Linked DNA regions of Homo sapiens. The protein of the gene in region 1 purifies or fractionates together with the protein of each later gene. This does not show direct contact. Each region holds a gene or a part of one and is shown in the gene's direction. Other genes may lie near its edges. The genes, in order: ZSCAN5A, OBSL1, ZMYM4 and ZMYM2.

Region 1 (7,402 bases):
GGCTCACAGATTTTTATTGGATAACACTGCCCTAGATAATAACAATACATTAATTGAGAACTATGTGCCAGGCAGTGTGTTTTAGAAATATTATCTTATTTAGAACACGTGAACACATAGGGGTGAACAACACGCACTGGGGCCTGTCGGGGTATGGGATTGTGGGGAGGGAGAGCATTGGAAAAATAGCTAATGCCTGCTGGGCTGAATACCTAGGTGATGGATTGATAGGGGCAGCAAACTACCATGGCACACATTTACCTGTGTAACAAAACTGCACAGCCTGCACATGTATCGTGGAACTTAAAAATATATATATATTATCTCATTTAAACTTTACCTCTATGAGGCAAACTCAGTAGACTGTTTCTTAAACTCCACTTTAAAATGATCCCTGGGGTAAAAGAATTTTCCATCCGTCTATGAAATATACCAACTGATGCTTCAGGCTCACTGAATGCCCCTGGCTAGTGCAGTGCTTTCTAATATGCCTTCATTCTTCTCTATTGGTTCAGTTGTGTGACTACCCAGAGCTAGTTGAGTTGCATTTATTCTAAACCTTTTCATTCTAATGGATTTTATTTCAATTATGTAATGCAATTACATTTAACATAAATGAGGAAAATATGAGTGCATCAGCAAAGAATTGTTTCCACCCAAAACAGTAATTCAGTGGGAAAGATGTGATAAAGGCCGATTGTTAATAAGAGCAACAACAAAAAATATGTCAAGTTGGAATGAGCAAGATGGCTATAGGGATGATCTTTTTCTTTTTTTTAATGCAGTGAGGATTTTGCTTAAATAGCTTTGCAAGCATGCCTGTGTCTCCGCTGCCCTTTTAAGGGACAAACTGGAAATTGTAGGTCCATAGACCTATACAACAACAACAACGAAACCCCCTGGTCTTATATCAAAAGATTAGCAAATGCCTGTACAATTTTATGTTTTAAAACAAAATGGTAAAAGTATTTTTAATTACCTATTGGAACCAACTTATTTGATGAACCAACCAGTGATGGTTCTGATCATGATGATAAGAGAACTTCTACCCTACTGTTACTATCCCCATTTTACAGATGATAAAATAAGGCATTAAGAGACAATACCTTCCCCAAGCCTGCATATCTATTAAGGGGTGGAGCTGGGATTCGAACCCAAGAAACCTGTCTCCAGAGCCAAAGCTTTCAACCAGGACAAGGAACCTCCTCCAGAATAGGCAAGAAACATGCAGGCTGGAGAGCTGGATACGGCTTCCTCCTGGAACAGCCATATCCTCACAACTGTATTTCCTCAGGACGGTGGGGGCAGCCCCAAATCTTTACACAAAAGAATACGGACTTTGGAATGAGTCCAACTGGGTCAAATCTCAGCTGTGTAGCTTAGTGTGATGTTGGACGAGCCATCGGTCTCTCTGAGCTGTAGTGTCTTCACCTGTAAAGTGCACAGTTAACTGATAGCGTTTGATTCTTGGTAATCCACCAGCATACCTGTTAGTTTTCAGTGTTGGGCGAATGGAATAACCCAGCCTTTTCAGCCATTTCAACAAGTATACATTTTATTATGGAAGTAGTGGGGAAAGTTCGAGAACGATCTGGAGGAGAGATTTTAGGGGAAACTCCTGCAGTTGCTCTCTCAGCCGCCCTGGGTGCATCCCCCTAAGGCATGGCCCCCACAGACACCTTCTGGCCATGCCTCTGGGCACCCAGGTGCCATTCCTTAAAGGACCCAGTTCATTACCCTCCACACAGGCAGTCCAGGGGACAGAGAGCTTTCTTCAGAGGTTAGAATGCCTGGGAGATGGAGGCCTTGTGAAGGCTAAGCTGAGATGGAGCAGGCTCACTAGAAAGAACAGCAGGGATCATCCCTAAGAAAGGAGAGAGAAATGTATTTGTGCATTGATTTTCGTCTTCATGCATTCTCATACTCCTTGCCTGGTGCCCTCTCCATCCACCTCTACAGGGCTCTTTGTGACCTGCCTCAAGCCCACCTCCTCCCTCCAGCTTAGCCCATTCTCCCCACTCACTAGGTTCCACCAAGTTTGTCCCTATTCCCACCGGGCTGTTCCAGCAGCTGGAACACGCTTCCCTCAGATCTTATGGACCCTAGCTCTGCCCCATCACCAGGGCAAGTGTCTCCTCCTCAGAGCAGGGCTCTTCTAGAAACCAGCCAGTGGGAAGCAGCGCCCCCTCCAGTTCCTCACTGTCCCGGCGCCGGGCCTGAGCTTGTGTTGCACCCCTACCTCCCACTAGAGGGCGCGCCCCGCAGGAGCAGGGACTGCCCAGGCCTGGCTGGGCTGCACCCCCTAGCCTGGTGTGCTGGAGTCACTCAGAGTTGCAGGAAGAGAACCTTAAGGTTTGCTTCTGGGTGCTGGAGTTCCAGGGATGGATCAGGGGTACTTCCTGCTCCCACAGGGGCTCACAGTCTATGTGAGCAGGGGCCCTCAAACTGTGTTCCGCAGGGCCAACTGCAGCCTGCATCCCTTTTAATAAAGTTTCTTTTTGTAATTGAGGTAAAATGCAAACATAATGCATAACATAAAATTCACCATTTTAACCATTTTGAAAGGGCACAATTTAGTGGCCTTCATTACATTCGCCATGTTGTGCAATTGTCACTTCTAAGAGTGGAACATTTTCATCAACCCAAAAAAGAAATCCATTAAAAGCAGTCACTCCCCTTGTTCCTTCCTCCCCTCAGCCCCTGACAACTAGTAATTGGCCTTCTGTCTCTTTGAATTTGCCAGATCTGTCTGTTTCATATACATGGCATCATCTACTGTGTGATCTTTTGTGTCTGCTTCTTTCACTCAGCACAGTGTTTTCAAGGTTCAGCCGTGTTGTTGCACGTGCCAGGACCCCATTCCTCTTTTGGGGGCTGAATAATAATCCATTGTATGAATGCACTACGTTTTGTTTATCCTTTCATCAGTTGTTGGGTACAGTCACAGCCATCAGTGTATTCTCTACGATTGCTTTGACTAGAGTAGTTGCAACAGACCATATGACCTGAAAAGCCAACACGTAATATTTGGCCCTTCACAGAGAAAGTTTGCCAACCTCTTGCCTAATGGGTTGAAAGCACACCTTTATATGAAAATAACTATCTGGTTTGACCGGTGCTTTAATGTATGGTTGAAGAGAGCCTGAGAAACCGTTCAACACCATTCATTTCCTTCAGCATCCTCCCCAGTGGAATCTGAAGGATTGCTGTTGGTTCCTGAACCAAAGCATTGCTTAGGTGAATCTTGAGGACTGAGGAGGACTTTTCTAGGTAGACAGAGATCAAGGAATCAATGTGTGCAATGGCATAATGGAGCGGGAAAAAAAATGTGATGTTTTGGGGGGAATCAGAAATGATTTAATATGGGGGGGCGTGGTGGCTCATGCCTGTAATCCCAGCACTTTGGGAGGCCGAGGTGGGTGGGTCACCTGAGGTCAGGAGTTCGAGACCAGCCTGGACAACATGGTGAAACTTCATCTCTACTAAAAATACAAAAATTAGCCAGGTGTGGTGGTGCATGCCTGTAATCCCAGCTACTTGGGAGTCTGAGGCAGGAGAATCGTTTGAACCTGGGAGGCAGAGGTTGCAGTGAGCTGAGATTGGGCCACTGTTCTCCAGCCTGGGTGACAGAGTGAGCCTCCATCTCAAAAAAAAAAGACTGGGAGCCACCGCTCACGCCTGTAATCCCAGCACTTTGGGAGGCCGAGGCGGGCGGATCACAAGGTCAAGAGATCGAGACCATCCTGGCCAACATGGTGAAACCCCGTCTCTACTAAAAGTACAAAACTTAGCTGGGCGTGGTGGCACTCGCCTGTAGTCCCAGCTACTTGGGAGGCTGAGGCAGGAGAATTGCTTGAACCCGGGAGGCGGAGGTTGCAGTGAGCCAAGATTGCGCCACTGCGCTCCAGCCTGGCGACAGAGCGAGACCCTGTCTCAAAAAAAAAGGTTTAATATGGACAGGGGATGGAATGTGGGTGGGGGGATCAAGAGAAGTGGAGAAAAGTTTAGAGAAGCAGGAGGAGCTTGGAGCCTGAGAACCCTTGGGTACCATGCCAGAGACCTGAACTTGATCAATGGGGCAGAGGCTTCCTGCCAGGTTCCCTGAAAACTTGGGATCTTTTAGGAATTCCACAAAGGTTTGCTTTGATTTTCATTTCAAAAATTAAACTATTTTTTAAAATAGGTGTGTACCCAAAATATAGCACATGGACTGAAATTTTTATTCACTGGAGAGCCACACCAACCTGTTGCATGTTTTACATACAGACCTTGGGGAAAAAATTGTATTACCTGAAGGGCATGTACACTTCACAAGGCAAACTATTAGGCATTTGCAGTGACTTATCTCTGTGGGCTCAGATTTTTCTCCGTATGAACAATTAAAAGGAAACACTGCAAGATACGGGGTAAAAGAGAGTAACGTAAGACAGCAGAGGCCTTCTGTACCCTGTGCTTGCAAATCTCATCACCTCACTTCATAATAAGTAAATGTCACACAGTTAACCTTAGGAAAAGTACCTCTGGTAATGAAAAGCAACTTAGAATTTTTTATATATTGGGATTCCATGTAAGATTTCAGTAGAAAAGTGTTTTGGATTTTCTTTCTTTTAAAGTTTGAAAGACACTCATCATAGTTGGTGAGTTTCCACTGGTGGATTTAAGCAGGACTGCAGCAGGGGGTGGGGGTATATCGTATGATCGAGTTGACATTTTTTAATGTAAAAAGGGCACTGGGGATGCCAGGGAGAGGATGAAAGGCAGGCGACGTGGGAGAGGCCAGGGAGGAGCCTCTTTGTAGCTATCAAGGGAAGAGAAATCTCCCATCTGTCCTTAGTACTTTCTCTGGCGACGTGGGAGAGGCCAGGGAGGAGCCTCTTTGTAGCTATCAAGGGAAGAGAAATCTCCCATCTGTCCTTAGTACTTTCTCTGGCAACAGGGGAGAGGCCGGGGGGGACCCTCTTTGCAGATACCGAGGGAAGAGAAGTCTCCCATCTGTCCTTAGTACTTTCTCTGGCGACGTGGGAGAGGCCAGGGAGGAGCCTCTTTGTAGCTATCAAGGGAAGAGAAGTCTCCCATCTGTCCTTAGTACTTTCTCTGGCGACGTGGGAGAGGCCAGGGAGGAGCCTCTTTGTAGCTATCAAGGGAAGAGAAATCTCCCATCTGTCCTTAGTACTTTCTCTGGCGACGTGGGAGAAGCCAGGGAGGAGCCTCTTTGTAGCTATCAAGGGAAGAGAAATCTCCCATCTGTCCTTAGTACTTTCTCTGGCAACAGGGGAGAGGCCGGGGGGGACCCTCTTTGCAGATACCGAGGGAAGAGAAGTCTCCCATCTGTCCTTAGTACTTTCTCTGGCGACGTGGGAGAGGCCAGGGAGGAGCCTCTTTGTAGCTATCAAGGGAAGAGAAATCTCCCATCTGTCCTTAGTACTTTCTCTGGCGACGTGGGAGAAGCCAGGGAGGAGCCTCTTTGTAGCTATCAAGGGAAGAGAAATCTCCCATCTGTCCTTAGTACTTTCTCTGGCAACAGGGGAGAGGCCGGGGGGGACCCTCTTTGCAGATACCGAGGGAAGAGAAGTCTCCCATCTGTCCTTAGTACTTTCTCTGGCGACGTGGGAGAGGCCAGGGAGGAGCCTCTTTGTAGCTATCAAGGGAAGAGAAATCTCCCATCTGTCCTTAGTACTTTCTCTGGCGATGCGGGAGAGGCCAGGGGGACCCTCTTTGCAGCTATCGAGGGAAGAGAAACCTCCCATCTGTCTTTCGTACTTTCTCTCCGTACCCTGGACCCTAGCCTTGACCAGGCTACCGTCATCTCGTGGAAACTGAGTAGCCTCTTAACTGGCCTCTACACTTCATGTCACTGGGACGTGTCTCTTTCTCACTGACAGCCTTTCCGTGGCTTCCCATGGCTCTGAAGGTTGGGTCTAAAATGCTTGCTCTAATCTTCCAGGTCTGAGGTGGTCTGCTGAGCATGTCACCCACACTCCTCCCATAGTGCCCTCCCACTCCCTCCCCCTTCTCCTGCCCCCATTTTTCTTTCTGACTCCAGGCACATCTAGGCCACTTTCCACCCCAGGGCCTTCGTACAAGCCAGTTCCTTCACCTGGAGGCTCTTTCACTTGTTTTCTGTGTATCTGACAACCCCTCATTCTACAGGCCTTTGATTCATTGTCACTTTCCTAAAGAGGCTTTCCTTCATCACCCAACTATCCAGGGCAAGGTTCTTTAGTTCTCTTTTTCATCATATCCTCAGCTTTTCCTCTAGCTCTAAGTATCACCTGTAATCATCTAATTGTTTTCTTGTGAGCTCAGGAATCTTGTCTGCCCCGTTCACTACTGCATCCAGGATGCATCAGTGGGTCGTTATAAACACAGAATTATCATATGACCTAGCAATTCCACTCCTAGTTTGTACCCCAAAAGATTTTAAAACAGATATTCTAACATAACTTGTTCATAGCACCACGACTCACAACAGTCAAAAGGTGGGAGCAACCCAGTGCACTTTACCTGATGATGGATAAACAAAGTGTGCTATGTCCATGCCGTGGAGTGTTATCCAGCAGAAACGAATACAGTCCTGATACAAGGTATACCATGATGAACCTTGGAAATATTATGCCAAATGAATAAACCCAGATGCAAAGGGCCACGTAGTGTATGATTCCATGTGTATGAAATGACCAGAGTAGGTGAGTTCTCAGAGACAGAGAGTAGACTAGTGGTTGCCAGGAACAGGGGGAAGAGACGATGTCTTGGTACAGAGTTCCCTTTTAGGATGATGAGAAGATTCTGGAAACAGATTAGTGGTGATGGCCACACAATATTTTGAGTGTACTGAATGTCACTAATGGTTAATTTTATGTCGTGTGTGTTGGGCCACAAGTCCTAAGACTTGTGAAAAAATTATAGAGTGAATTTATAAAGGAGTTCCTCCTGCCCGGCACATCCCTGTCATTTACAATGTGTTTCCTTGCCCCTGTCAGGCAGTGGCTTGCAAGTAAGGGTGACGAACTTGGGACTTCTCATGGAATTCTGGGTTTCTATGATTGCAGCTTCCAAATCCACCTGTGTTCCTTACCTCAAATGCCAGGCAGTTGGGATGAACCTCCCCTAACCCCACCCCAGCGGTGGGAAAAGCCCACTTCCCTGCCATAGCATACCTGATGTCCAGTTCCAAGTTACAGTAGTGGCAGTAACACTTGGGAGGAAAAAGTGAACTGGGAACAGAGAAAGAAACAGTTGGGGTGAGGCGAGTGAATTCCTTCCTTACCTCCCTTTCTCCCCATCCCCCTCTCGCTTCTTTCCCGTCCTCCCCCTCTGCTCTTTCCCTCTGGTTGTAACATCTTCTGGTCTTGCTTCTCTATTCAGCCCGCCTCTCACCACTCCCACCTTCTTCCCCATCTTC
Region 2 (7,402 bases), on another chromosome or scaffold:
TCTCTACTAAAAATACAAAATCATTAGCCAGGCGTGGTGGCGCCTGCCTGTAATCCCAGCTCTACTTGAGAGGCTGAGGCACCAGAATTGCTTGAACCCAGGAGGTGGAGGTTGCAGTGAGCCGAGATTGCGCGACTGCACTCCAGCCTGGGCAACAGAGCGAGACTCCATCTCAAAAAAAAAAAGAGTTAAAATATTTTAAATTCTACTCAGACCCTTGCAGAATATGTGAAATGACTGGGGCGGGGGGAGCCAGGGAACAGTTTGGAAATCACCAATCTAGGGCCTGGAGGACCCCAGGGAACAGTTTGGAAATCATCAATCTGGTCCAACCCCTTCTCTCCCTTTCCCCATTTTACAAGTAAGGAGACTGAGGCCCAGAAGCATTGAAATGGACTTGCTTAAGGTGATGTGGCTAGTGTCAGGGCTGGATGAGAACTCAGGTCATCTTAGGAACCACCACTTCCCTTCTGGTAGTTTTCTGTGATTCCACAGTGCCCGCTGGCTCTGCATGAAGAGCACACAGCATGAGCTAATGCGCTTCTAGGTATCCTACTCCTAGTCTGGGCCTTCTCCAGAGCCCTCTCTTGTCTCTCTCTCCCCTCTCCACAGAGCCCCGCCTCCGGTTCACACGGCCCCTGCAGGACGTGGAGGGCCGTGAGCACGGGATTGCCGTGCTGGAATGTAAAGTACCCAACTCCCGCATCCCCACGGCCTGGTTCCGTGAGGACCAGCGGCTGCTGCCCTGCCGCAAGTACGAGCAGATCGAAGAGGGCACTGTCCGGCGCCTCATCATCCACAGGCTGAAGGCAGACGATGATGGTATCTACCTGTGCGAGATGCGGGGCCGGGTGCGCACCGTGGCCAACGTCACAGTCAAAGGTCAGCTGGCCCGTGGGGAAGAGGCTGAGGCGGAGGCAGGCAGGTGCTCAGATTCCAGGTTGATGGATTCCTGTCCGCATCTCAGGGCCCATCCTGAAGCGCCTGCCCCGGAAGCTCGACGTCCTGGAAGGAGAGAATGCTGTGCTGCTAGTGGAAACTCTAGAGGCCGGGGTCGAGGGACGCTGGAGCCGTGATGGGGAGGAGCTGCCGGTCATCTGCCAGAGCAGCTCAGGCCACATGCATGCCCTGGTCCTTCCAGGGGTCACCCGAGAGGATGCTGGCGAGGTCACCTTTAGCCTGGGCAACTCCCGTACCACTACGCTTCTCAGAGTAAAATGTGAGGGCAGGAAGGCCTCTGGACAGGCGAGGCAGGGCAGGAGGTTGGCCAGATGCCGGAGCTGGGTTGGTGAAGTAGATTTAAGGTGGAAGGGCTGTGGAGGCCCAAGCAAGGCCGGAACACATCCCTGCCTTGGTCTCAGGTGTCAAGCACAGTCCCCCAGGACCCCCCATATTGGCAGAGATGTTCAAGGGCCACAAGAACACGGTCCTGTTGACCTGGAAGCCTCCCGAGCCAGCTCCCGAGACCCCATTCATCTACCGGCTGGAGCGGCAGGAAGTGGGCTCTGAAGACTGGATTCAGTGCTTCAGCATCGAGAAAGCCGGAGCCGTGGAGGTGCCGGGCGACTGTGTGCCCTCCGAGGGTGACTACCGCTTCCGCATCTGCACAGTCAGCGGACATGGCCGTAGTCCCCACGTGGTGTTCCACGGTTCTGCTCACCTTGGTGAGTTGGTCCTGCCAGACCCACCCATCACTTCTCCTCCCTTCCCCAGCCCTCAGTGCTGGTCCTCTCACAGGCTTGCCATCCGCCAGCCTCTGCCCTCTGCCACACCTTCTAGTTCTGACAGCTGCACTCTGTCCCTGCCTCAGTGCCCACAGCTCGCCTGGTGGCAGGTCTGGAGGATGTGCAGGTATACGACGGGGAAGATGCCGTCTTCTCCCTCGATCTCTCCACCATCATCCAGGGTACCTGGTTCCTTAATGGGGAAGAGCTCAAGAGTAACGAGCCGGAGGGCCAGGTGGAACCTGGGGCCCTGCGGTACCGTATAGAGCAGAAGGGTCTGCAGCACAGACTCATCCTGCATGCCGTCAAGCACCAGGACAGCGGTGCCCTGGTCGGCTTCAGCTGCCCCGGCGTGCAGGACTCAGCTGCCCTCACAATCCAAGGTTGGTGCCAGTGGGGACCTGAGTGGGCAGAAAGGGTCAAGACACAGAAGTCCTGTTGGCAAAACGAGGCAGATGCTGTTTTTATTTCTTGTATCTGGGCCAGGAGAGCAAGGAGCATCCATGATGGGCTGAGGTTGAGGGCTCAGAGGTCCGGAAGGCCAATTTCAACCCACATGCAACATCCAGGGCACCCCTTGTTATCTTGATATATGTCAGCATCATATCCCAATTCTCTGGAGTGCTTTGTGGTTTACAGAATCCTGTCAGATTTGTCATCTCATTTGAAAGACACAGACCCTGGCTGCTAGTCCCTGCCTGCCTCCTGCCATGTTGTCTAATTGTTGACATTGTCATCGCAACTTTCTACGTGCCAGGCGCAGTCCTAATCACCTTACATACATTAACACAATCTTCTCAATGGCCCTATAAGATAGGTTCTTTTTTTTTTTTTGAGATAGAGTCTCACTCTGTCGCCCAGGCTGGAGTGCAATGGCGCGATCTCGGCTCACTGCAACCTCCACCTTGTGGGTTCAAGAGATTCTCCTGCCTCAGCCTCCCGAGTAGCTGGGACTACAGACATGCATCACCATGCCCGGCTTGTTTTTGTATTTTAGTAGAGATGGGGCTTCGCCATGTTGGCCAGGCTTATCTCAAACTTAAGATAGGTTCTTTTGACATTCCCATTTTATAGCTGGGGAAACAGGCAGATACGTTAAGTGACTTGCTCAAAGTACGGAGCTAATGAGCACAGGTGCTGAATTATGAACCCAGGCAGTCGGGCTCCTGATCACACTGTGCCACCTGTTGAAAGGGGGAAGGAGGGGAATGAGGCATCCCTGAGGAGAACAGCTGGAGGTGGGGCGCTCAAAGTTCAAGGATCACGCTAGCATTTGCCATGTCACCATTGCTGGAGTTTGTAAGACCAATCAAGGAATCTGTCGGCACCCATGCACGGGGTCTTGGGGTGATTCACTGTCAGCATCGCAGGCAGAGGGGCCAGGTGAGACCTGACCAGCAACCAGAGCAGCATTTCCAAAATGGGATCCCAGTTCACTGACATCAGAACCACCTGGAGGGCTGGTTTATAATGCAGATTTCCTGGCCCCTGCGTGCTTGGGAATCCAAGAATTCTGCATTTTTAGCAGGCTCCCTAGGAATTCTTATGCACAGCCAAAGCACTGCTCTTAAGGGTTGGTGTGGAAGCCTAAGCCTATTTTTAAAAACCCCAACAACAGCAGTTGTTCCCTCTGATGCATCCGACACTGAGCCCATGCACCGGAGGGAGGGGTGCTTATCTGTACTTCTCCCCACACAGAGAGCCCGGTGCACATCCTGAGCCCCCAGGACAGGGTGTCGTTGACCTTCACAACCTCAGAGCGGGTGGTGCTGACTTGTGAGCTCTCAAGGGTGGACTTCCCGGCAACCTGGTACAAGGATGGGCAGAAGGTGGAGGAGAGCGAGTTGCTGGTGGTGAAGATGGATGGGCGCAAACACCGTCTGATCCTGCCTGAGGCCAAAGTCCAGGACAGTGGCGAGTTTGAGTGCAGGACAGAAGGGGTCTCGGCCTTCTTCGGCGTCACTGTCCAAGGTCAGGAAGCATGCCAGCCTGGGCTCCTCCAGCCAAGGCTGATTGTGGGGCCGCATAAGCCATGCCCTCTGGTCTGCTGCCTACTTGGGGGAGTCCTTTACAGGGAGAGTCCAGTGGCCCAGGGGACATGTTTCAGATAACTCTGCACTTGCTTTTTTGTTTCTTGTTTTTTTTGGAGACAGGCTCTCACTCTGTTGCCCTGGCTGGAGGGCAGTGGCGTGATCTCAGCTCATTGCAACCTCCGCCTCCTGGGTTAAAGCGATTCTCTCACCTCAGCCTCCCAAGTAGCTGGGACTACAGGTGCGCGCCACCACGCCCAGCTAATTTTTTTATTATTTGGTAGAGACGGTTTCACTATGTTGGTTAGGTCACCCCTGACCTCAAATGATCTGCCCGCCTCAGCCTTCTAAAATGCTGGGATTATAGGTATGAGCCACCATGCCTGGCTTTCTTTCTTTCTTTCTTTTTTTAAGATGAGGGTCTCACTGTTGCCCAGGCTGGCCTTGAACTCCTGTGCTCAAACGATCCTCCTTCCTCAGCCTCCTGAGCAGCTGGGATTATAGGTGTGTGCCACGCACAGCGTGCCTTTGCCTCCTAAACCCCTGATACACTAACACTGTCTCGCTGTCCACATAGCCTCTGCTGGGTTGGGTGGGGGAACAAAATGCAATTAAGGGGAGGAGAGATGGGAGCAAACACTTTTTGGACACTTACTCTGAGCCAAGCACTATGCTAAGTATTTTCAATATACACTCTTTCATTTAATCTTCACAACTCGATGAGGGGCAATATATCTCCAGTTCACAGGCAAAGAAATGGAGGCTGTAAGAGGTTATGTGACCTCCGTCACACCATAGCTTGGCGACACACACAGGATTGTTCTGTTCCTGCTGCCTCAGATAGAGTCAAACAGAAGCATCGAGTGCAGTCACCCCGTGGTTCTCACAAGGCAGTCCGTAGGCTGGCTGCTTTAGGAAGCTCCTGGAAGCTGGTTATAAATCCCTGGACTGTCCAGAGCCCCAGTATCCAGGGTGGAGCCTGAAGATCCTTTCCTAACAAGTGCAGACTCTCTGAGAGAGCAGCTTGGGAACCATGGATCCCACTCATCTCACTGAGTGGGAGTCCTGTTTTCCACACTGTGGCCCCTGCCTGAATGCACCCAGTGACAGGGAACCCACTACCTGGAGAGTGGCTGTCTCACTGTTGCCACTTGTTGGATCATCCTTCACCTCCTGCCCACCCTGGGGTCTTTCTCGTAATAGAGGCAGTAAGCATGGCCCTGATGTGACTTGTGACAGTGACCTCCCTTCAGCCTAGACAAATGGTGGCTGCCACTCTGTGAACTCTCTGTGCTTCCTTCTCTCTATGTACTCACCCCGCCACCTCTGATCCTTTGGGGACCTACAGAGCACTCTGGTGCCACATGATCTCCTGCCATGCCTCACCTGCCATGCCCTCAGCATTCCTTGTCATTGTCCCTGAGTCCCTACACAGCAGGACCTTAGCCCTCCTCCAGTGTCCTCTTGTGCAGAAACAGTGTCTCCTGGCCACACAGCTAGTTTGGACTCATTGTGCGGGGGTGTCTGTGCAATGCCATCTCTGCTTCCCACCCAGATCCTCCCGTGCACATCGTGGACCCCCGAGAACATGTGTTCGTGCATGCCATAACTTCCGAGTGTGTCATGCTGGCCTGTGAGGTGGACCGAGAGGACGCCCCTGTGCGTTGGTACAAGGACGGGCAGGAGGTGGAGGAGAGTGACTTCGTGGTGCTGGAGAATGAGGGGCCCCATCGCCGCCTGGTGCTGCCCGCCACCCAGCCCTCAGACGGGGGCGAGTTTCAGTGCGTCGCTGGAGATGAGTGTGCCTACTTCACTGTCACCATCACAGGTGGGGGGCCAGGTGGGCCTCGGAGGCACAGGGGAAGGTGCCCCTGCTCCCACTGGAACAGCTGCCACACCTTCACTCCCAGGCCACTGTTCCCCGCCCCTACTGCCCTCCCCCTGGCAGATCGGACCTCCTCCCTTTCTCCTCAAGCTATGGTCTAGTCACATTCAGGAAACGTGTTATCATAAGCACATTGGTCTTGGCTAAGGAAGCCTGGCTTTCTCTATTCTCCTGAAAACCTGTACCAAGGGAAATCTCTGGGGACAGTGAGTCTATTGCAGGGTAGGGCAGAGTCTAGGGCTGGTGGTCTCAGGCACTAGGGGGGCAAAAACATCTTGGAGGAGGAGACCCCCAGCTCCTCCCCCCAACCCTCCTCTCATCAGTTCCACCCTTCATACCGTCCCTGTCCCAACCCAGAGAATGTGGAGCGTTTCTACAGCCGAGGCTGACCCCGTGGTCCCCTCTGTGCAGCTCCTGCGCAGCAGAAAGTCTGCTGTGCTTTTGTGACAGCTGTATTCGTGTGTCTCTAGCTGTGAGTAACTGTCAGCTGCTGTGAGATTTGGTCTCAGGAAGGTCCCTCTTCAACACATGGCCTACTTTCCAGGGGTAGGGAACACAACGGGGTCAGGGAGGACGGCAGGGCACACCCCTCATGCCCGGCAGTGGCTGTCCCTGTCCTCCAGACGTCTCCTCGTGGATCGTGTATCCCAGCGGCAAGGTGTATGTGGCAGCCGTGCGCCTGGAGCGTGTGGTGCTGACCTGTGAGCTATGCCGGCCCTGGGCAGAGGTGCGCTGGACCAAGGATGGAGAGGAGGTGGTGGAGAGCCCCGCGCTGCTCCTGCAGAAGGAAGACACTGTCCGCCGCCTGGTGCTGCCCGCTGTCCAGCTCGAGGACTCCGGCGAGTACTTGTGTGAAATTGACGATGAGTCGGCCTCCTTCACTGTCACCGTCACAGGTGTGGGCCCAGCCCAGCTCCCCGGGGTCACAGAGACAGCCCTGAGCCCTGGAGGAGCTGGCCACATAGCCCCAGCTAGCACCCCGGGGAGGAGGGAGGTGTGGGCTGCAGGTGCATGTGCCAGGGTTCTTGCTGAGATGAGCCCAGGGCCCCTATTCAAGGAAACAAGCCCCTCCCCGGTGCCCAAGGCCAGGCCTAGCTCTGCTCCACAGCTCATTTACTGAGCACTTTCCCTGAATCAGGCACTGGGAGTAGCAGGTGAGTAATGCAAATACGGTCCCTATTCTGAATGAGCTGCCAGGCTAGGTGAGGAGGCAGCTGTTAACCAGGGGTCGCAAACGGGTAGTCCTGGGGCCCTGCGCATTCCACACATGTGCTTTGTTTGGTCTGCAGAGTCTTACCAAAGTCAGGACAGTTCAAATAACAATCCGGAGTTATGCGTCCTCTTGAAAAAGCCGAAGACCCGGCGGCTCTGGTCCCGCTTCCCCCCATGGCGACGAACAGCTGGCACTGAGTAGCAGCTGCCCCCATAGTTTGGGGCCCACATTCCTCTGTCCCACCTCCCTGCCATTGCTTTTTGCCTCTCCCCAGACTGCTTCAGCCGCTAACCTAACCTGGCCCCTGTGGGCATTTGAGTTTGCGACCCCTGTGTTAAACCAATAAACATGCAAATAAATGTACAGTGACACCTGGTGATAAGTACTGTGAGGGCCAAGGGCAGAGGGCTCAAGAGCACAGAGCAGGAGGGTCAGGGAGGCCTGGGAGAAAGTCACCCTTCCACACACGGGAGCCAGCAGCACGCAGACACGGCCGCTTCCCTCTAGGACTGCACAGCCTGGCAGGAAAGCCAGACGCATTCCAGGATCT
Region 3 (7,402 bases), on another chromosome or scaffold:
GGAAAAAAAAAAAAAGATACCATACTGGTAGCAGTAAAAACTTTATTATTATTATTATTTTTGAGACAGAGTCTTGCTCTGTTGCCCAGGCTAGAGTGCGGTGGCGCAATCTCGGCTCGTTGCAACCTCCGCCTCCCGGGTTCAATTAATTCTCCTGCTTCAGCCTCCCAAGTAGCTGGGATTACAGGCAAGCACCACCATGCCTGGCTAATTTTTGTATTTTTAGTAAAGATGGGATTTTGCCATGTTGGCCAGGCTGATCTCGAACTCCTGACCTCTGGTGATCAGCACACCTCGGCTTCCCAAAGTGCTGGGATTACAGGTGTGAGCTACCGGGCCTGGCCCAAAAGTTAATTTTATTTTTAACAACCTATAACATACGCAGGACTTGTATAGGTTTCCCCCATTATTTTGCCAGTTTCATCACAGAGGAAAATTACATTCATTGATTTTTGGAATTAATGGTGTGGTGGCACATGCTTCTAGTCCTCGCTATTCAGAGGTTGAGGTGGGAGCATTGCTTGAGCCCAGGAGTTGGAGGTTGCAGTGAGCTATGATATTGCCACTGCTCTCCAGCCTGGGTGACAGAGGGAAACCCCCTCTCTAGAAAAAGTAAAAATAATACATAAATAATATTTTTTGATCCATAATTCATTTTGTTTTTGATATTTCATTAGAATGTTCGGTATGATTGTCTTAAATGATATAAGTACTTTTTTCCACTTTTTTTTGGTGTGTGCCAAATTACATGTGGATTCCATATGTATACTCCAAGCCGATTAATGGGGACTATGCAGTACCATGTCTTTGGAAATTGACTGCCTTGAGGGAGTTGAAACAAACTATCCACATAGACTTAGATAGTAACTTTAGGCTATTCAATCTGAAATTGCATTGATGACATGGTATTGTACTTAATGATGCTTACTGCTTTTGACCTTTGTAATCATGTCACAAAAAAGTTGCTAAGCACCTGTGCTATTTCATAAGCTACATGCTAGGCATTGTGCTTTGTTACTTAGGGTCATTTAGGATAATATATGCTGGCTCTCTTGATAAATTGTGAACTCCTTTAACATAGTATCTATTTCATTGCTTTTTGCGTCTGGACATCTTGTGACCTCTACACAGTAGGAACTCAAAAGACTTGCTGACTTATTTTTGTAAGAATAGCTTACCTAGTACAGCAGAGGCTCTATGGGTTGAGTACCAAGTTCTCTGCTTTGTAATTTTGAGGGGCTCTGTAAATCTTTCATAGCGTCCTTTACTCCCCAGAGTTCTCTCCTATGGATCCAGATTTAGGGATCTTCTGATTGTTCTGGATTATGGTTAGATGGGCAGGTGACTGCATTTTTTGTTGTTGTTTTTGAGATGGAGTCTTGCTCTGTCGCCCATGCTGGAGTGCAGTGGCGCTATCTCAGCTCACTGCAAGCTCCGCCTCCCGGGTTCACGCCATTCCTTCGCCTCAGCCTCCCGAGTAGCTGGGACTACAGGCTCCCACCACCATGCCCGGCTAATTTTTTGTTTCTGTATTTTTAGTAGAGACGGGGTTTCACCATGTTAGCCAGGATGGTCTCGATCTCCTGACCTCGTGATCCACCCGCCTCGGCCTCCCAAAGTGCTAGGATTACAGGCGTGAGCCACCACGCCCAGCCGGTGACTGCATTTTAAGACCATTGGGTTAACAACCTTAAATTCTAGGTAGGCCTGCCTGATGTCTTGTTTTTATATTTGTGGGCAGTCGGAACACTTGTATTCAGAATATGCTGGAATGCTAGTCTCTCAATTTGTGAACACGGGGGAGCTGAGTATGTGGGTGGATCAGCGCTATATTCATCTATCATCTCTAGTATAGAGAGAATTAAGTTCATATCCTAGTGCCTATACATGAAGGCGTTACAGCAAGCATCACACCCACACAAATACATACACACACACACACTTTAAAGTTGGCATATTATTTAATTTTTTTAGATGATAAAATTTTTGTTTTCTCAAATAGCTTTTAAGACTCATTAGGTAGGCTTATTATAAATGATTGAATTATTTATGCATGGCTATTATAATAACCAGTATGTTATGAAGTATGAGGTCTAACTAAATCGGGCGGCCATATTTTGTTGTAAAATCCTTGTCTTTTCAAAGTTTACATACAAAATAATAACTTTTGTAAATGTAAATATTACCCGGTCTAGTAAATTGTATTCATTTTCATACTTAAAATTCTGTGTGTATTAAATTTGAGATGTATATACCTGGTATGCTTAAAAAAGAGAGAAAGCATATGTATAAGTAGTATGCTTCCATTTTTTGTGAAAAACAAAACAAAACGACCTTTCTTGCCTCCCCACATTTGTGTCTGTATATGCTTGTACATGTATGAACTTAGAGAAAATTGTGGAGGACACAGTTTGGGATATTACCACTGATTACCTTCAGTGGGTAGGGAGGAGAAACGAAAGAGAGTATAAGGGTGCAAATTTCACAAAGTGGAAAAAGTATTCATGGTATAATGCTAAGTGAAAATGTAGACTATAAAATGTTATCTATTAATATATAAATCTGTGAAAATTGAACACACATATAGACAGTAGAAAATACGAACAAATGAAAGCATTGACTTCATGATGTGATGGGATATGGAGAAGTTTTATTTTGAATTTCTGTTATTTTAATATTTTATAATAAAATAATTGCAAAAGATTGATCCCTCTTAATTCCTTAATTAACTTTTTCTCTTTTCTGTCTTTTTGCTAAATGTATTACTTAAAAACATGGCGGTACATATCATTACAATATTTGCGGTTTATATGTATGCAATGTGAATAATTTGCTTTTAGAAAGTATTGACTCTTTGTTTAGAGACCATTTGAAGAGGCCATTCAAATACAGTGATTCTGCATTGTTTTCACACTGCTTCCCATCTTGTAACACACAGAGGGATCTGTAAATAATAATACTTGTGGCTGGGTACAGTGGTTCATGCTTGTAATCCTAGCACTTTGGGAGGCCGAGGCAGGAGGATGGCATGAGGCCAGGAGTTTGAGACCATCCTGGACAACATAGCAAGACCCCATCTCTACAATAAATTAAAAAAATTACCCGAGGTTTAGTAGCCTCGTCTACTCATGAGGCTGAGGTGGGAGGATTGCTTGGAGGATTGCTTGAGCCTAGGATTTCGAGATTGCATTGAACTATGATTGTGCCACTGCACTTTAGCCTGGGTGACAGAGCAAGAGAGACACTGTTTTTTTTTTTAAAAAAAAAAAAAAAAAAGGAGAGGCCATTCTAATACTGAGAATGATTCTGAGTTGTTTTCACACGCTGGTTCTTCCCATCTTGTAATAAGCAGAGACATCTATAAATAATGATAATACTTGGTATTATAAACCCTTAAGTGCCAGTCATTTTTCTAAGTATTTTACATGTGATGTATTTTTCAACCACAATTATTGTCCCATTTTATAAATTAGGAAATTAAGGCACAGAGAGATTTGCTGGAGATATGATGGCTAAATCAGGATCAATTATTACTTGAACTGGTCCTGTTCGATCATATAGGTTAGAACTTTTGTTTATCCAGAAATATTATGGTTAGTGTTTATATTCTCATTTGTAAAATAAAGCACATAATTCTTTATCTGGAATGTATGGATGTTAGAATAATTTGAATTACATTCAAACAAAGTTGATGTAAGTTACTTCTTAGGAATCATTAAGTTAACTTGTTCCCTAAGAAATACATTTTTGTTTGAGATCATCTTAAAATATGTATTCACAGCTCACATTTATTTTTTAGAAAATATACACTAAATATTTTGAAGCTGTGATTTACTTTAAAGATTATGTTTGTACTTTTTTTGACAATGGAAAGATTTTCTTTTTTCTTTTCTTTTTTTTTGAGACAGAGTCTTGCTCTGTCGCCTAGGCTGGAGTACAGTGGTGCCATCTCAGCTCACTACAACCTCCACCTCCTGGGTTCAAGCAATTCTCCTGCCTCAGTCCCCCGAGTAGCTAGGATTACAGGCGTGCACCACAATGCCCAGCTAATTTTTAGACAGGGTTTCACCATGTTGGCCAGGCTGGTCTTGAACTCCTGACCTCATGATCTGCCCGCCTCAGCCTCCCAAAGTGCTGGGATTACAGGCGTGAGCCACTGTGCCTTGCCAGAAAGGTTTTCTTACTAAAGAATATGTAAGTAGATAAATATAAAATTTCAGTTTCTATGGATACTTAAGAGGTATTTTTGAATTCTGTATTAGGAGAACAGCCACTATTTAAAGAAAAGTGATATTTCCCTTAAAAATTCTGATTATTTTACTATGAGCTAACTGTATGTACTTACTTTAGCAAAGGAGAAAGGCAAGTATTGTATAAATGTACTGTATTCAACCCAACAAAATTGCTAATACTTGACCATTTGACTTAAAAAAAAATGACACTTTTATGTGGCTTAGCCATTAGCAGGAGCATGGGTTTTTCAAAGTCAGTTTATGGTATAATCTCTGGAATTTAGCAATTTTGGGGTAGTAATAGTTCTTATCCAACCTTCTCATACCTATACCCACTTTCTTGTACTTAGGAAATATTTATATTGTTATTTTAATTTCATTCATATCATCTTTCTGGCCTCCTAGAAGCTTTAATTAGCTGCCTTTGACCAAAGATAGTCCTTTTTTTTGTTTTGTTTTGGTCTATCCAGCGTATAGAACCCAGCACTGTCAGTTCTTTGAGAACCCAGCACATATCAAGAATCATATGTGTTTTTCTTTCTTTACACTTCCCAATATGTCTTACAAATGTATTTTAATACTGACATGCATATTATACATTTATAAGCCAAAAATTAATCTACTATTCCTGTCTCATCTAACTACTCATTTCTGTCCCTCCCTCCCTCCCTCCTTCCCTCCCTCCCTCCCTTCTTTCTTCCCTCCTTTCCTTTCCTTCCTCCTTCCTTCCTTTTTTTCCATAGTTGAAATAATTTCAAAGAAATAACACACATCACATCATTTAATCTATAAATACTTCCGTGTGTATTTCTAACAGATAAGAATTTTTAACAAGCACAACCACAATACTGTTACGACCTAACAAAAGAGTTCCTTAATCCAGTCTGTGTTCAGACTTCTCTTATTCTTTAAGTGTCTTTTTACACTGATTTGTTTAAATCATCCAACTAAGAGTTACACATTTCATTTAGTTTATATGTTTCTTAAGTTTTTCTTAACCTTAATCACCTCCCCCCACCTTTTTTTTTCTTTTTGAAATGGAGTTTTGCCCTTGTTGCCCAGGCTGGAGTGCAGTGGCGTGATCTTGGCTCACTGCATCGTCCGTCTCCTGGGTTCAAGCGATTTTCCTGCTTCAGCCTCCCGAGTAGCTGGGATTATAGGCATGCACCACCAGCCTTGGCTTATTTTGTGTTTTTAGTAGCGACAGGGTTTTGCCATGTTGGCCAAGCTGGTCTCAAGCTCCTGATTTCAAGTGATCCACCCGCCTCCGCCTCCCAAAGTGCTGGGATTATAGGCATGAGCCACTGCACCCAGCCAATAATCCCCTTTCTTAACTCATACCCCCTGTGCTCCTTTCCCATGCTATTTATTTGTTGAAAAAAATAGGTTATTGTTCCAGGATAATTTTCCACATTTTGGATTTGGCTGATTGAATCCTTGTTATGGTATTTAACATGTTCCTTTACCCCTCATATTTCCCACAAATTAGTAGTTAAATACAGAGCAGTGGTTCTGAACTTTGGCTAAAACTTTAGAATTATCTGGAGAGCTTTTAGTTATCCTGATCCCTAGGCCACATCTCCGATAAATTAATCAGAGCCCATGAGGTAAAATGTCATCATCAATATTTTAAAAAATTTACCAAGTGATTTCAGTCTGTAGCCAAGATTGAGAGCCCTAGTTGGTAGAGCTTGATGAGTTTAGGTTCAGTTTCTTTGGCAAGAAATATTTATAAAGAGTGGTTATATAATTTATTTGCAATCAGACAATTTTGAGAATGAAAGGGGGTGCTATAATGATTACACAGAAGGAATAGTTTAAACTGGAATTGTTCTAGACAAATTAGGATTTATAGTCATTCCATTAGATGGGGCTGTGAATTCTTGTTGGATCGTTCTAGGAGGTAACTTAAGTGGTGGTTCTACTTTTAGTGATACTAAATGGATCATTTGGTTTAGGTTCTGTCAGTGGGATCCAAATGTAATTTATTTTTAACTTTTCACTTAATGATAATTCTTGCCTATATCCATTATTTCATTAGAAGAGTGATTTTTTTTGGTCATTTCTTTTGTATTTATTAACTGGAATTCTTTCATAAAGAATTCCCTCATCAATTATTTGGTTACCTTGTAATACGGTTTGTAAAGAAAAAGCAGGATAAATGCTTATTTTTTTCCCCTTTATCAGTAATTTTCAGAAAAATGAATTGATGCCCGCCCTCACAACTCCCAAAGGTGAGGTTTGGGAGGGAGTATCATTAGGAACTCATGAGTTTTACCATATGTGATACATTCTAATTTATCATAGTCATTATTTTTGGTGTTCAATTTGTTGTATCTTTGATGATTGGCGGTCTCTTAAATTAGTTTCCTAAGGCTGCCAAAAAACTGCTACATACTTGGTAGCTTAAAACATCAGAAATTATCTCACAGTTTTGGAGGCTAGAAGTCCAAAATCAAGGCTCTAGGGAAGAATCTTTGCTTGTCTCTTCTATCTTCTTGTGGCTTGGTTGGTATTCCTTGACTTGTGGCGGCAAAACTCCTGTCTTTGCCTTCATCTTCCCTTGGTCTTCTTTCTGCATCTTCTTTTCTGTCTCTTAGGGTCTACCTTATTCCTGGATGTTCTCAGCTCAAGATCCTTACCATAATTACCTCTCCAAAGATCTAGTCTGCTCACATACTGTGGTTCTGGGTGGACATAACTTTTGGGAGCCACAGTTTAATACACTACAGTTCTTTTTTTGACCCCTAAAACTTCATTTACATCCCATATGCAAAATAAATTCACCTCATCCCAACATCCTCAAAAGTCTCGACCTATTACAGCATGAACTCTGTTTTTTTTTTTTTTTTTTAGATGGAATTTCACTCTCTCGCCCAGGCTGGAGTGTAGTGGCAGAATCTTGGCTCACTGCAACCTCTGCCTCCTGGGTTCAAGCCATTTTCCTGCCTCAGTCTCCCAAGTAGCTGGGACTACAGGAGCGTGCCGCCATGCCTGGCTAATTTTTTGTATTTTTAGTGGAGACGGGGTTTCACTATGTTAGGATGGGCTCCATCTCCTGACCTCGTGATCTGCCCGCCTCGGCCTCCCAAAGTGCTGGGATTACAGGCATGAGCCACCATGCCCAGCTACAGCATGAACTCTTAAGTCCAAAATCTCCAAATATTATA
Region 4 (7,402 bases), on another chromosome or scaffold:
ACTACAGTTCCTGTTCCTGTAAGTCACATTTTAAGTTCTTTCTCATTTTGAGATTTAGCAGACACAGTTGGGAAAACAGTGTACAGTTGACCCTTGAACAACAAGAGTTTGAACTCCATGCATCCACATATGTGGATGATTTTTTTTTTTCCCCAATAAATATGGGCGGCCCTCTATATTGGCAGGTTCCACATCCGTGACCAAACACAGACTGAAAATACAGTATTCTGCCTGTAATCCCAGCACTTTGGGAGGCTAAGGTAGGCGTATCTTCAGCCCAGGAGTTCAAGACCAGCCTGGGCAACATGGTGACACCCTGTCTCTACTAAAAATGTAAAAATTAGCCAGGCACAGTGGCATATACCTGTAATCCCAGCTACTTGGGAGGCTGAGGTAGGAAGATTGCTTGAGCTTGGGAGATGGAGGCTGCAATGAGCCGTGATTGCACCACTGCACTGCAGCCTGGTCTACAAAGCAAGTCCTTATCTCAAAAAAAATGAAAATAAAAAATTATTTGAGGATGTGAAATCTGTGTAGAAGGCTGACTGTAGGGGTGTGGAACTTGAGTATGCATAGACTTTGGTATCCATCCACAGGTGGTCCTGGAACCAATCCCCTAGAATACTGAGGATAACTCTAGTTGCAGTTACTAGTTTAATGAAGCTAATAAAACCATCTTTACCTTTCTTCGACAGTTAACTTAGATTTGGTTGAATCTCTGTTGTCATGATTGATTGCTTTGTGTATAGTATGTATATGTTCATCCTCGAGAGTGACATTTCGCGGATGTCTGTGCCTGCTCTGTGCATATTAAGTTTATATTTGGGTTCATTTTCAAAAGGAATATTTGTGGGCCATGTGCAGTGGCTCACGCCTGTAATCCCAGCACTTTAGGAGGCTGACATGGGCAGATCACCTGAGGTCAGGAGTTCAAGACCAGACTGGCCAACATGGTGAAACCCCCTCTCTACTAAAAATACAAAATTAGTTGGGCATGGTGGCACATGCCTGTAATCCCAGCTGCTGGGGAGGCTGAGGCAGGAGAATCGCTTGAACCCGGGAGGCGGAGGTTGCAGTGAACTGAGATAGCGCCATTGCACTCCAGCCTGGGCAACAAGAGTGAAATTCCATCTCAAAAAAAAAAAAGAAAAATATTTGTGAAGCCATAAGGTTTAGAACTGAAACATAGAATTTCATATAAAATATTATTTTATCCCAAATCACTTGCAGTACTTAGAAGAACACTGTGTCAGGGCTTGGCTATTATAGTCCCCTGGGGGACAGAAATACTTCAAAAATTCTTTTTCTTTAATTTGAATTCCAAAAAGTAGATGCTTGTATTCTAGGCTTTCTTATCACAGTTAACATCTTAGTTTTGTATGTGTTCTTTTCAAAGCTTTTATCCAGTGTGATATTACAAAGTAGATCATGTGTCAGAGTAATTTTTAATTTGGAAAAATACCTTTTAATGTTTAGTAAACCTAACTCAAAATGATTTGGTTAATTAGGTGCCAGTTCCTGTTTTTCTGCCTGCTCCATTGGACAGCAGTGAGAAGATTCCTGCAGCAATTGAGGAGCTAAAAAGCAAGGTTTCTTCAGATGCTCTTGATACAGAGTTGCTTACAATGACGGATATGATGAGTGAAGACGAGGGGAAAACAGAGACAACCAACATCAACAGTGAGCTACACTAAATTATACCTTGCGAATAAGTGTTAACATTGGTTATTTATAAGTATTGTTACAGTACTTTCCAGGGCATATCATTTTGTTTCAACTTATGTGGGGGTGAGGAAAGCATTGTAACAAAAATGTTTTTTATATTAAGAGATCTACACTGTATTTAGCCAGGTGCCCTCAGACAGATATCCGAAGCAGGAATTTGGTCTTTGGTCTCTGTTTTAAGCAGGATTTGACTTGTAAAATCAACTCAAAATTATTCTTGTTAATGGAGTAGTGCTGATGCAAAACTATAATAACTTGTAGTAGACTCTAATGATGATCAAAACTCTTATTTTGTAATAGTTATCCCTAGTTTTTTGTTTTGTTTTGTTTTTTTTTTTAGATGAACTCTTGCTCTGTTGCCCAGGGTGGAGTGTAGTAGCATGATCCCGGTTCACTGAGATCTCTGCCTCCTGGGTTCAAGCTATGCTTCTGCCTCAGCCTCCTGAGTAGCTGGAATTACAGGCACGTGCCACCACGCCCAGCCAATTTTTGTCTTTTTAGTAGAGACAGGGCTTCCCTATGTTGGCCAGGCTGATCTCAAACTCCTGACCTCAGGTGATCCACCTGCTTCCCAAAGTGCTGGTATTACAGGTGTGAGCTACCACACCCAGCCCCTAGTTTTCTTTTATTGCTTATACTAATAAAATAATTTGCATTATCTAAACCAGAGTTTATCTTAACCTCTGTTAGGGCAGTGCTTGCGCTACATGGTATAACGTGATGAGTGTGTTGTGGATGGTTCTAAGTCACTTAGAATATTTATTTTCCACCCTTAACCCTCTCTTGATACCCAAAGTCCTATTTCAACCTTGAGCTAATTCTTACCCTTACCCTAGAGGACAATCAAAATACTATAATTTTCTCTGGATTTAATAATGAGACAGTGTTTTTGAAGCACTGTGGTAAGGAGTTGTGAAATTAGTGGGTTGCAACCAGTGTTTTTGTTTAAGAAAAGAAAAAGCTAAGTGGAATAGGGTAAGAGAAATGACAGTGTGAATCCCTCATAGAAAGGGTAAGTATTATTTTGTGAAACCAGTGTGTATACAGATGTCTTTCTGTTCCCCACCATCACCTTGCAGTATGTGCTGGATAAAATGCATTTCTTGCCATGATTACAACACAAAAACACTTGAAAGCAACTGATCGAACCATTAAAAGGCAGTTGTTAATATGCATATATTGAACAATCTGAGAAACCTGGGTCAAAATTCAAAGAGTATTGAAAACTACAGTTGTCTACCCTCATTAGTTTATTTTTGACAAAAAGTTGCTTTTAGAAATACTTTACTTGTTGAAGTTGTTTTACTATCAAAGCATACCTATTAGCTTTTGAAGGGAGTCCTCCTGTAAAATTTATAGGATTAAAAGTTTTCATGTGCTTGTGACTAATTATGAGGTTTATAGTGGTTTACATTTTGAGATAGTTATATATATAATATGCCCTTTTCTTTTGTGACATTATACGTATTTTTTTATATTGCATTTAAAATTAAATGACTTGCTTTTGCCAGATTAAATACAGATACCATTGGGGTTTTCTGTTTTGATTCCTAATGATAATATGGATTGATTTCAGGTGTAATTATTGAAACAGATATAATTGGTTCAGACCTTTTGAAGAACTCTGACCCAGAGACACAGTCCAGCATGCCTGATGTACCATATGAACCAGATTTGGATATCGAAATAGATTTTCCCAGAGGTACTCAAAACCTTTATGACTATGGAATTTAGTTATGGAGTCAACTGTGGTTATGATCATTTACCATTTGATGTTTGTGTCATTGCCTTTTAGCAGTGTTCATATTTTTTATTCTTGTTATTTTTTAAACTCACCTTAAGAGTTAACTTCATATTTTGTTGTTGTTTTTTTTTAAAAACCCACCTTAACAGTTAACTTCTGGAATGAGATCACTTGAGTCCAGGAGTTCAAGACCAGCCTGGGCAATGTGGTGAAACACTGTCTCTACTAAAAATATAAAAATTAGCCAGGCGTGGTGGTGCATGCCTGTAATCCCAGCTACTCGGGAGGCTGAGGCAGGAGGATTGCTTGAGCCCAGGAGGTAGAGGTTGCAGTGAGCCGAGATTGTGCTACTGCACTCCAGCTTGGGCAGCAGAGTGAGACCCTGTCTTTAAAAAAAAAAAAAAAAAAAAAAATTCTAGAAGTAATTCATTATAGAAAGTTTAAAGAAGTGTTTGTGTCCTTTTTAATTTAAAAATGTTGTTAGCATCTGGGTGCGGTGGCTTATGCCTGTAATCCCAGCACTTTGGGAGGCCGAGGTGGGTGGATCACCTGAGGTCAGGAGTTTGAGACCAGCCTGGCCAACGTCGTGAAACCCCGTCTCTACTGAAAATACAAAAATTAGCTGGGCGTGGTGGTGAGTGCCTGTAATCCCAGCTACTGGGGAGGCTGAGGCAGAATTGCTTGAACTCAGGAGGCGGAGGTTGCAGTGAGCCAAGACTGCACCATTGCACTCCAACCTAGGCAACAAGAGCAAAACTCTGTCTCAAAAAATATATATATATAAAAAATATATAATATATATAATACATAAATATAATTTTATATATTATATACATCATGATGTATATAATATATAAATATATACAATATATAATATAAATATAATTTTATATATAATATATATTTTATATATATTATATAGTTTTTATATATATAATATATATAGTTAGCTTTTTTTTAAGATCCTTTGAAAATTAAGTTCACCTTCAAAGGAAAAATTATTTTCAGGTCTTTTGTAAAATAAGTGTGCCCCATTTTTCATTATTTTCTTAATCCATGGATGGCTAATGAGCACACTGAGTAGAATGTAAAACATTAGTTTTTGGAAAAAACATTTAATAGATTGAATCAGATTTGTACCAAGACCATTTAGATCTTGTAATTGGATTTCAGACTATAATAATTTTTCTGGTATCATACATTTTCATGAAAATTTTATGTTGATATTCATTTTATATATGTTTTTAGGAGTTTGAACAGTGTTTGTCAGAATTCACAAACCATGTTAGGTACAATGAGTCATTTACTCCCCAGCCCAGCCTAGATTGTCCCCATGTATGAATGCTGGTTTACATCCTGTGGTTAGTTCTTTGTTGGCTGTGTTTATGTAACCCTGTGCTATTTCATTTAAAATAAAAGTTCTGATTTGGTTGTCAGCTGCTGAGGAGCTTGATATGGAAAATGAATTTTTATTACCACCTGTTTTTGGCGAAGAATATGAGGAACAGCCCAGACCTCGATCTAAAAAAAAGGTACATTCACTTAATAGCCTATATAACAATATTTCTCTATAGGCAAACAAGGATACAGTGTTCTTTTAGTGTGCCTGAGAATATGGGAACATATTTTGTTTTCTAGGTTGGAAAATAATTTATTTTCTATTTATATAGAATATAGTAATAATATATTACTGCTATTTATTACTATTATTTATTACTATTTCTATTTGTATAGAAATAGTAATTATTACTATTTCTAGTAATAATAGTAGTAATAATTTATTTCTAGTAATAATTTATTACTGTTTCTAAGTAATAAAAATATCTCAGATTTAGTTGATACCTCAACTAAACTTGTATTGATACAAGGTCAAAATAGAAAACAGTTGCTAAAGTAGTAAGTTCAATTATTTGACAAAAATTTAGACTGTTTTCTAGGGAGCTGTTTTTTCCACGATTATTTCTGATGAGATGATCAGTGGGGTTGAAGTACACAGTTTATTATTTCTGGTCTCTTTTAGGCATACCAACACACATAGAAAGACATGCTGGACAGTTTGATCATTCAGGTAGACCAAATCTACATGCATTAACAAGTGTAATTGTTATAATATTCTGTCAACTTTCTGTGTTTCTGACTTCCAACATAAAGCAGGTTTTAAAAATACCTTAAGAAAGATAGCTTTCACAAATTGTCCCCAAAAGAAAGAAAAAAAACCGGAAAAGGGAGAGAATACTTGGAGTGGAATGAAGGTGGACTTCTGCTTGACACCAAACACAACAATTAACTCAAAATGAGCCATAGACCTAAATGTAAGAGCTAACAATATAAAACTCTTAGAAGAAAACATAGGCCTAAATCTTAATGGCCTTATGTTAGGCAGTTTCTTAGGTAAGATACCAAACGCACAGGGAAGAAAAGGAAAAATAAATAAATAAACTGGACTACATCAAAATTAAAAACTTTTGCATTGCAAACAGTGCCATCAGGAAAGTGAAAAGGGGGCCAGGCACAGTGGCACCTGTAATCCCAGCACTTACAGCACTCAGGAAGGCTGAGGCGGGAAGATTGGTGGAGCCCAAGAGTTTGAGACCAGCCTGGGCAACATAGTGAGACCTCTACAAAAACTAAAAAATAAAAACCAGCCAGGCATGGTGGCACGTGCCTGCAGTCCCAGCTACCCAGGAGGAGGATCGAGGCTGCAGTGAGCTATGATCGTGCCACTGCACTCCAGCTTGGGCAACAGAGCAAGACCTCTCCTCAAAACAGAACTCCAGCATGGATACTTACCTGGCAGGGGAGATACCGTGATTACAAAACTCTAGCATGGGTGACAGAGCAAGGCCCTGTCTTAAAAAAACAAAAATAAAACAATAAAATAAAAAAGTGAAAAGTACTTAAGTGTCACTCTCTATAAGGTGGAGTTGTTGAAAAGTTCTTCAGTTTCTGTTACAGTAATATTTAGATTATTAGTTTATTGTCTTATATTTATTTTCTCATCATTGGTGACTCTCACCACAGAATTTAATATGATTTTGTTGCACAAAGTGATTTATGTAGAAACATCACATTTCCTGGAATATTAATTGACTGTTGTCAGATTCAGGAATACCAGTCAGTTCAAAGCAAATACCTATATTTCATTTTTTCTTTTCTAATTTCATGACACATTAAACAAATAACTATATTTTTATGACAGATTAAACAGATAACTATATTTGTAATTACAGATGACCGTTGTACAATGCAGTGGTTGGGCTCTGATCCCCCCTGCACAGTCACAAATTTGTGTATAACTTTTGACTCCCTAAAAAGTTAAGTACTAGTAGCCTACTCTTCACTGAGCCCCCCTGCACAGTCAAAAATTCATGTATTACTTTTGACTCCCTAAAAAGCTAACTACTAGTAGCCTACTGTTGACTGGAAGCCTTGCTGATAACAGTTGATTAACACATATTTTATATGCTACATACTGTATTTTTATAATAAAGTTAGCTAGAGAAAATGTTATCAAGAGAATCATATGGGAGAGAAAATATATTTACGATTCATTAGGTGGAAATAGATCATCCTCATTGTCTTCAAGTTGAGTAGGCTGAGGAGGAAGAGGAGAGAGGTTGATCTTGCTGTCTCAGGTGGCACGATTGGAAGAGGTAGAAGGAGGTTGGAGAGGCAGGCACACAGAAAAACATACGTGTCCAAGTGGACCCCTGCAGTTCAAACCCATGTTGCTCAAGGGTCAATTGTAATTTGCCTTTGTTGAGAGATGGCTTGTATAAAGTAATGAAATAATGTAGGCTTTAAAAAAGATATTATTATGGTGTTTTTTACTAATAGGGAGCCAAGAGAAAGGCTGTATCAGGATACCAGTCTCATGATGATAGTTCTGACAATTCAGAATGCAGCTTTCCTTTCAAATATACGTATGGCGTA

Evidence for each region.
Region 2: the proteins of ZSCAN5A (region 1) and OBSL1 purify together in Homo sapiens (co-immunoprecipitation; 3 studies listed by BioGRID and IntAct, with this or other methods). This does not show direct contact.
Region 3: the proteins of ZSCAN5A (region 1) and ZMYM4 purify together in Homo sapiens (affinity purification with mass spectrometry; 5 studies listed by BioGRID and IntAct, with this or other methods). This does not show direct contact.
Region 4: the proteins of ZSCAN5A (region 1) and ZMYM2 purify together in Homo sapiens (co-immunoprecipitation; 4 studies listed by BioGRID and IntAct, with this or other methods). This does not show direct contact.

The regions. Positions count from the first base shown.
Region 1 is NC_000019.10:56,304,586-56,311,987, reverse strand, and holds part of ZSCAN5A (zinc finger and SCAN domain-containing protein 5A), read left to right. Parts: intron 1-1,533; exon of another isoform or gene 1,534-1,839; coding exon of another isoform or gene 1,840-1,864; exon of another isoform or gene 1,865-4,628; coding exon of another isoform or gene 4,629-5,747; exon of another isoform or gene 5,748-7,157; coding exon of another isoform or gene 7,158-7,195; exon of another isoform or gene 7,196-7,402. Other genes in the region: uncharacterized protein LOC124900420, read right to left, coding at 4,629-5,747; EDDM13 (epididymal protein 13 precursor), read right to left, coding at 1,840-1,864, 7,158-7,195.
Region 2 is NC_000002.12:219,561,535-219,568,936, reverse strand, and holds part of OBSL1 (obscurin-like protein 1 isoform 1 precursor), read left to right. Parts: intron 1-612; coding exon 613-882; intron 883-967; coding exon 968-1,219; intron 1,220-1,361; coding exon 1,362-1,664; intron 1,665-1,810; coding exon 1,811-2,107; intron 2,108-3,422; coding exon 3,423-3,695; intron 3,696-5,309; coding exon 5,310-5,582; intron 5,583-6,262; coding exon 6,263-6,535; intron 6,536-6,928; coding exon of another isoform or gene 6,929-7,053; exon of another isoform or gene 7,054-7,215; intron 7,216-7,402. UniProt on the Homo sapiens protein: Core component of the 3M complex, a complex required to regulate microtubule dynamics and genome integrity. It is unclear how the 3M complex regulates microtubules, it could act by controlling the level of a microtubule stabilizer.
Region 3 is NC_000001.11:35,271,359-35,278,760, forward strand, and holds part of ZMYM4 (zinc finger MYM-type protein 4), read left to right. Parts: intron 1-7,402. UniProt on the Homo sapiens protein: Plays a role in the regulation of cell morphology and cytoskeletal organization.
Region 4 is NC_000013.11:20,059,545-20,066,946, forward strand, and holds part of ZMYM2 (zinc finger MYM-type protein 2), read left to right. Parts: coding exon 1-18; intron 19-1,508; coding exon 1,509-1,680; intron 1,681-3,301; coding exon 3,302-3,427; intron 3,428-4,906; coding exon 4,907-5,001; intron 5,002-7,306; coding exon 7,307-7,402. UniProt on the Homo sapiens protein: Involved in the negative regulation of transcription.